3 separate regions of the Homo sapiens genome follow, and all the other regions are linked to region 2. Evidence: fine-mapped expression QTL. A gene starts in region 2. Each other region holds a variant in brackets. All regions are shown on one strand. Distances are from middle to middle.

Region 1 (2,764 bases), 230 kb after region 2:
TCTCTTTCTCCTTCTATCTGATGTTAGCAAAATAATAGGATTTAAGAGCCATCTTAATATTATATAAATGGCTCAAGACTATGCCTTGGGAGCCTAGGGTTCCAGTCCTTGCTTTGTCCCTTCTGAGTTCCTCTGAAATAGAATAGGAGAGAATTTATGACCAGTGTTTCCCAAATTCCTAGCGTAAGAATTGCTAGAGGTGCTCGTTGAAAACAAAGATTCTTAGATCCCTACCGAGATCTACTGAATTGGAATTTCCAAAGGAAAATGATTCTTATCCTCAGGGAAGTTTCACTCACATAGGACAAGATTAAGATTCCTTCCATCTCTGATATTATTCGATTCTGTGAATACTATCATTATACTGCCATAATCAAAAGAAGAATTTTGTCTAAACAAAGGAGTGTCAGAAAACCACTGCCAATACTCCAAAGTTTAGTATTTGGGATACCTATGAGCACAAATAAATTGGTACATTGCATACAGGTGCTATTCCATCTACTCTGCCAGATCAAGGAAAGCCACAACATAAGTGGATCTTCAAGGCATCTGTGCCTCTGCTAGTTAACTTGACTAGTAACTTCTGACCATTTATTTTCCAGCCAAAGTCATTAACCAAACCAATTCAGAAATGGCAGTGCTTCCTGAAAGAATAACTATACCTTAATTATTAATGCCACAGTCAGAAATGAAGCTGGACTCTTCTTTGGGTAAAGGTTGGTGGGAGACAGTAGAAATGAGGGGTGTAATAGAAGCTGAGAAGATATGGTCAAAGTCTGAGTTAAAGTTTAGAGAGGAAAAGACAGTTTATCCTGGCCCTATTTGTCAATAAATTATTTGAATAGTTAAAGTAAAAATTTTGTGAGGGATAGAGTTATAGGTTTTCTCTCTTGTATTTTCAAATAAAATAATTCATTCTGATGTTGCCTGACCTTGTTGATTTAGTCTTCATTTTTCTTATTTCTTTTATAGCTCTCTAGCCTTTCTTTTCCCTTTTCTTTTGACAAACAACTAGAGGGGCACCATGCTCTTTTCTTATCCTTTTACTTCTTTGGCTTGACAAAAATAACACAGCATAAAATGCACCTAGCATTATGATGTTTGTTCTTGTTCCTCTTCTGATAAGGACTAAATGTATAATTAAGGAAAATGGTGTTCACAACAGTACCTAGAAAGTAACTGGTTCACAATTTTTGCTCAAATTAAATTTTATTTATTAAATGAAAGAATAGATTAATCTTGAAGTGAGAAAATGAAAATATAAGGAGTGACTTTAGCAAAGAA[G/A]AACAATGGTTCCCAAATGTATATCACCAATCCTTTTCTCTCATTTTCTTTAGCCCCACCTCTTTAATTGCTTATAGGCTATTTCTAGCTGAACTTTTATGATGTTGAAAACAAAAGTCTCCTTCCTTCCTTCCTTTCTTTTCTTTTCTTTCTTTCCTTTCTTTCCCTTCTTTTCTTTCTTTCTTTCCTTTCTTTCCCTTCTTTTCTTTCTTTCTTTCAAGTCTTGCTCCGTCGCCCAGGCTGGAGTGCAGTGGTGGGGTCTCGGCTCACTGCAACCTCTGCCTCTTGGGTTCAAACGATTCTCCTGCCTCAGCCTCCTGAGTAGCTGGGACTACAGGCGCGTGCCACCACACCCAGCTAATTTTTGTATTTTTAGTAGAGATGGGGTTTCACTATGTTGGCCAGGCTAATCTTGAACTCCTGAGCTGTGATCAGCCCACCTCGGCCTCCCAAAGTGTTGGGATTACAGGCGTAAGCCTCTGCACCCAGCCAAAACTCACCATCTTTCTTATCTTCCAAACTCAGTTTTATGATGACTTTCCTTCTCCAATGCATTTTAATCCTCTGCATTCCTACATTCCATTTATGTAACCTCCATACCTGAATAATGACTGACACTAACTCCACTTTTCCCAGCTGTCATGGCATAGTGAAAATTCCAGATCTGCCACTTAGTGGACAGGTACTTTGAACAAATTTCTTAACCTCTGGGAACATTACTTTCTATAAAATGGGGATAGTAATATGAATTAGAATAAATATATATGTTATAGATATACAACATAGATGTAATTCATATATATTAACCTTTCAATAGTAGATGTTCAATAAATTACAGCTATTGTTACCCTGAAATCAGTTTTTCTTTTTTTTTTTTTTTGGAAATGGAGTTTCGCTCTTGTTGCCCAGGCTGGAGTGCAATGGTGCAATCTCAGCTCACCGCAACCTCCGCCTCCCAGGTTCAAGTGATTCTTCTGCCTTAGCCTCCTGAGTAGCTGGGATTATAGGCGCCCGCCACCACACCCAGCTAATTTTTTTTTTGTATTTTTAGTAGAGACGGGGTTTCACCATGTGGGCCAGGCTGCTGACCTAAAACGATCCGCCTGCCTGGGCCTTCCAAAGTGCTAGGATTATATGCGTGAACCACCGCGCCTGACCATGGAATCAGTTTTTCAATCTGTGCTCGAGGTGTTGTGTTCTTAACTATCTTCTACTCCTTTGCAAAGATAATCTTTCTTAAACATAGACTTTCTAATCAGTTCTCTAGCATTGTTTCATTCTGTCTTTGGCATGTTTTCACTTTGCTGTGCTGTACTTTTACACATTCTTTTTAACTATAGCTTCCTGCTTTGCTCTGGATCAGGAAGCTATTGAAGCTGACACCCACAGAGTTAAACTGAGTTGCTGAAGCCACCAGCTCCCCCTCCCAGTCCTTCTTTTCAGAGTAGGCTGGCAGCTGTCCTAACTGCCTACTAAAGCC
Region 2 (2,764 bases):
CTTTACAACCACTCCTCGGGTTCTCCTGTCTCCACCTAGGCCTTCAGATTCTCCAGTTTTCTATTTCCACTTGAAAGCTCCATCTTCTCCATTGAGCAACCTCTTAAAAACCAGCCCAGGGGAAGTCTGGGTAAATCAGTTAAAGAGATGCTAAGGGGACACCGGAGAGATATTGACTGAGTCAGCCGGGAGTCATGGCTGAAAGCAGCTTGGCTTTCCCTGATGCGGTTGGAGACAGCAAAACATCCTTACTACCTGCATCCTTACTACCCCTCTGCTTCTCATCCCCTGGCTCCTGGGCTGCTGTGCAACAACAAAAGGACTGTCACACAGAAAACTGGAATGGAGAAGTTTCTGAAATAGTCATGAGCAATAAGGAAGCAATGAGGACTGATGGTCCCATCCTCCTTCCTGTGGCTCCTCTGAGGCCTCAGCCTGACTCTCCCATTCACCCATTTTTGAAATAAAGAGTTTCTGAAATAGAGACAATTTATCTAATATCCTTGACCTATTGACCAGAAACCAGAAAGGTAAGAAGTGCTATCTAGAGGTGAGAACCAGAGAGTAATCTGGTGAGGCCTTGTTGCGATGCTGACCTCCTGCATCAAAGTACACAGACTGGGAGTCAGAAGCCCTGGCTGTCACCCCAGCTCTGTGACTAAGCCTCTGAGGGACCATCACAAGGGCATCAACAGAGTAGGTACTCATTTGCCAGGTATCAGACCAGGCGATTAAGAAATACTAACTTTAATAATTTGGCAAATCAGCAATTATCTCTGATTTTCCCAGTGGAAAATAATGAAGGGGTTAACGTAGCTCATCTGTGGTCTCCTTGATTTCTGACATTCTGAGATTCTGTGATCTACGAACACAGAAACTAGCCCCAGCAGAACAATCATGCCTTCTCTTGGGCTCCATCAGCACTTGGTACTCAGTGCTAGTGTACATCAGTGACTACTTCCTGATCTGTTACATTTCCTGTGTGGGTTTGTTTCCCTGAGACCATATGCTCTTCAAGGGCAGACACTGTTTTCGTCTCCTGTGGTCCTCCTCCCAGCTCAGTACCTAGGGGAGACAGGCCTTAGAGTGGGTTGTAGATTGTCAGCAGAAACCAGGCAACACTTTGCTTGATGTTGGTGCTAGATGGCTCCTGAAACACTTGCCTTGGGTTTAAGCCCCTCCCTTTTGTTTCTATCTCCAGATGCTGATTTGCTACAACCACTCACAACCAGGCCTTCTGGCCATAAAAGGATAAAAGCCTACTAGTGGTGACCTTGCCCATCACCAAGGACTAAGAGCCAGGTAGGTTCCTCCTCAACTCTTACTCTGTGTTTCCCAACTGTCCCATGGCTCAGAGTACCCACCTCCACCTGTGCAAGCCTCTGTTCTAAGCGCCCGGCTCCTCGCGTCCACACCGACTCCCTCTCTGGCTGCTGCCACTTCGGAGTGAGAAACTGAGCTGCTGCTTCAGTTCCGTATTCAGGTTTTCGTCATTTCCTGCCACCCCATCCTCACAGCTACTTCCTGAAATTTGAGTCAGTTCCTTCTGCTTTAGACACTTAAATTTTAAAAGGATTAAATGTTTCTGTGCCTGGTCTTTTGCAAGGTTTTGACAATGGGGGTCATAGAGCAGTCATAGAAAATGCTGCTTTGACTCTGAGTTTGTAATCCAGTGAGAGAAACAAACATTCAACCAGAAAACACATTAGAGAATGCTGTAGAACAGCATTGTGTCCTAAATAGGGTGGCAGTTACATTTGAGACAGTAAAGGAATTCAGAGCATTTGGTATTGGGTGTATTCATCAAGAAAGGCTTTATGGGAAAAGTGATTTATATGTGGGTTTTGAAGCATAAGACTTAAAAAGAAACTCACCCCTATATTACCCACAGCACTTAAAAGTGGAGTTTTCATATAGATGTTCAAATAAACGTCGACCAATTGAATGCCAGAAGAGAATAACTCATGAGGGAAAAGGCAAGACATGGAAGGAGAGTTTCCTAGCTTGTTTGGGGCACTGTGGAGTCTGAGCTAACAAACTAAAGATTTGGCTCTAGAGCGTAGGAAGAATTCTGAAAGAACCAGGTGCTGGTCAGCTGATGGAAGAAGGTCTTTGTGGTATCCTGTTTTACTGCGTGTCAAGACTTGCTGCCCCTCCCTTCCCTCTTGAAGTCAGACTTACTCAGGTGACTTGTTTTGGCCAGTGACAGATACCACTTTCTGGCGGAGGCCGTAAGACCACTGCAAGCTTTGCCATGCTTTCACCACTGCCCAAGGCAACCTGCAATTCTCCATATTGGCTCCTCCAGCAGACTGGGTCCCTGAGTGAGAAAGAACACAAGTGGAGCCCCATCCACCATGTGGGGGAATTGGAGTCTTTCACTAAAAAATAGTCCTTTGTTTTGGCTACTGAGAATTTGAGGGTGTCTGTTATTGTATCTGACCTAGCCTTTCCTAATCTTGATTGTGGACTTCTTGATTTGTTCACAACGGTGCATCCTCCAAGGAGTTTAAGCAGGACTGGATGAAACTGGCCCATGATACAGGCACTTTTCTGCATTAGGAATATGAAGCCTCTGTCACTTCCAAATCTAAGGATTCTATGCCTGGGGGAGCTTTATTTATTCCTTCTACTTTATTACCTATTTATCATGGTGGTACCAAAGTTATGATAAGGAAGAGTACGTTTGTACAAGAGAAAAATCACTTGGAATCCTCATGTAGTGTCAAAATACGATTTAGACTAGATGATGTGACACACCATC
Region 3 (2,764 bases), 21 kb before region 2:
GATTAGGATCGAGGCTCTGTGATTCTAATTTCCATTTAAGAATGGGGGAGGAGGGAAGAAAGCCAGAAACGAAGCTCTGTCCACTCCTATAAGAGAGTGCTAGAAAAATTCTACTCATTTACTCAGGAAAATCATGAAGGGGGCTTGTAACCTGTTCAATATTTGATAGGGGGAAAATTTGCTTATGAGACTTGGAAACTCCAAGCCTACATCTGAGTGTAGAATGCAAATACACATTTTTTTTCCACTTATGTGATGCAGGAATTCTAAGCTGAGAAATTAACTAAATACTGATCCAGGAAAATATACATTTTGGAAAGAGTAAGCATAAGAAAGATGGCATGAATATGAGATAAAGTGATCTCAAGACAAAGTGCATTCTAAGAGACAAGAAAGACATGCTCCAATGATAAAAGAACAATACCTTACATCAGGAGTATGTATGCTGGCATAAACCTATTCACAGAACCAAAATTCATGAAGCTCTCAAATAAAAGAAAAATGTAAAAAACCAGGTGTGGTGAATGCCTGTAGTCCCAGCTACTCAGAAGGCTGAGGCAGGAGGGTGACTTGAGCCCGGGAGTTCGAGACCAGCCTGAGAAACATCGCAAGACTCCAACACACACACACACGCACACACACACACACACACACACACACACACAAATAATGCAAAAGCTGACAGAAGTAGAAAGAGAAATAGACAAATCTGTAATAGTAGTTGAACATTTAACACCATTCTTTCATTAATTAATAGGTATTTTAGGCAAAAACGAATCAGTAAAATTATAGAAGATCCAAACATTATCAACTAATAAACCTAATTGACTCTTATACAACACTATACCCCAAACTACAGAATATACTTTTTTCATGCATATAGAACATTGACCAAATAGACCATGTGCCAGTCCATAAGTCTCTAAGACAGTAAGTCTCAGTACATTTCAAAAGACTGAAATATCAGAGATCATATTCTGATCACAATAGAATTAAAGTAGAAGTCAATACCAATAAAATTATCTAGAAAATTTCCCTGATGCTCAGAAAATCAATAACAGCTTTTAAATAATACATGTGTCAAAGAAGAAATTACAAGGGAAATAAGAAAATATTTTTAACTGAATGATTTTATTTTTTGTTGTTGTTGTTGTTGTTGTTGTTGTTGTTTTTTGAGACAGGGTCTCACTCTGTTGCCCAGGCCAAAATGTAGTGGCACAATCATGGCTTGCTGCAGCCTCAACCTCCTGGGCTCAAGTGATCCTCCCACATTAGTCCCCTGAATAGCTGGGACCACGGGTTTGTGATGAATGAAAATTAAAACACACACATTCAAATATTTGTTGAATGTAGCAAATGTTTGTAGCAAATGAAGGTAGTGTTCAGAGGGAAATGTATAGCTTTTCAAGTGCCCATATAGTAAAGGAAGGCTTAAAATCAATTATCTAAGTTTCTAC[T/C]TTAAGAGGCTAGGAAAAGAACAAACTAAATTAATACTAAGTAGAAGAAAAACATAATAAAGATAAGAGCAGAAACCAATACATTTTTTAAAACAAGTAAATAATAGAGAAAATTAGCAAAGCCAAAAGCTTGTTCTTTGGAAAGAGTAATAAAATTGATAAACTTCTAGTAAGAATAATTAAAAAGAGAAAAAACACAAGTAAGTAAGATCAGAAATGAAAATAGGCATTTCATATCACTAGAAATCTTACAGAAGTTAAAAAGAAGAGAATATTATAAATGAATTTATGCCAATAAACCTGACAACACAGACAAAATGAACAAATTCCTTGAAAAGCACAACATACCATAACCAACTTAAAAACCAGAAAGACTTGAACTCCATGGGAAAAAATAATAATAAAGGAAAAAAAATGTCCGTTACTATTAAGACCTCTAGAGTTGAGCCAGAAGTAGAGGCAATATTTCCCTGGATGAGGTACTTACTAAACCCAGGGCACATGAAATTCTCATAAAACAAATATCCCTCTCCTTCACTAAAATAAGTTTATAAACAAGATTACAAACCATCAAGGAAATAAATAACCATGAGGAACGCAGATTAGTCAGAAGAAATGGCACAGCCAAGAACTGCAAATAATATAAAATATGAAAGAAACTGCAAAGTACATGTTTAAAATAATTAAACAGCTTAAAGAAGTGGCACAGGGAACCATAATGAAACCATAATGTCTTATGGAAAATGAATCAGCAGATATGCAATAGAACCAAAAGAAACTCCAGAAATGAAAATATCTGATGTGGTGGCTCATGCCTGTAATCCCAGCACTTTGGGAGGCCAAGGCAGAAGGATCACTTCAGCCCAGGAGTTTGAGGCCAGCCTGGGCAACATAATAAGACTTTATCTAAAAAAAGAGAGGGAAGGCAAGGGAAGGGGAGGGGAGGGGAGGGGAGGGGAGGGGAGGGCAGGGGAGGGGAGGGGACGGGAGGGCAGGGCAGGGCAGGGCAGGGCAGGGCAGGGAAGAGAAGGGAAAGGAAGGGAAGGGAAGATATTTGAAAGAAAGTTTAAAATGCAATGGACAGCTTAAACAATAATGAAATACAGCTAAAGGAAGAATTAGTGAACTTAACCTAGAGCTAAAGGAATAACCCAGAATGCGGCACAAGGACATAAAGAGAAGAGAGAAGAGGTATTATTCCAAGAGAAAATGCCTGAGAACTTCCTATAATGAAAGTCACATCTGAGGTTGAAAAAGGGCAGTAAGTCCCATATAGGATAATAAAAGTAGATCTAACATTCAGACAC

The links. PIP is the estimated chance that this variant, and not a neighbour inherited with it, causes the effect.
Region 1: its variant is the best candidate, but not a certain one, in a credible set for the expression of HCLS1 in whole blood (INTERVAL, PIP 0.58).
Region 3: its variant is the best candidate, but not a certain one, in a credible set for the expression of HCLS1 in whole blood (INTERVAL, PIP 0.76).

The regions. Positions count from the first base shown.
Region 1 is chr3:121,891,676-121,894,439 of GRCh38, forward strand. SLC15A2 (solute carrier family 15 member 2) reads left to right here and starts at 2,726. Exons shown (of 22, transcript NM_021082.4): 1 at 2,726-2,764. RefSeq lists enhancers at 1,152-1,685, 1,686-2,218. The variant G/A (reference allele first, on the strand shown) is at 1,285.
Region 2 is chr3:121,659,456-121,662,219 of GRCh38, forward strand. It overlaps HCLS1 (hematopoietic cell-specific Lyn substrate 1), which reads right to left and starts at 1,448. Exons shown (of 14, transcript NM_005335.6): 1 at 1,365-1,448. RefSeq lists enhancers at 1,291-1,480, 1,671-1,720.
Region 3 is chr3:121,638,393-121,641,156 of GRCh38, forward strand. The region is part of intron 6 of HCLS1 (hematopoietic cell-specific Lyn substrate 1); the gene reads right to left. Among named protein-coding and RNA genes, the nearest start is that of HCLS1, 21 kb to the right of the region's middle. The variant T/C (reference allele first, on the strand shown) is at 1,458.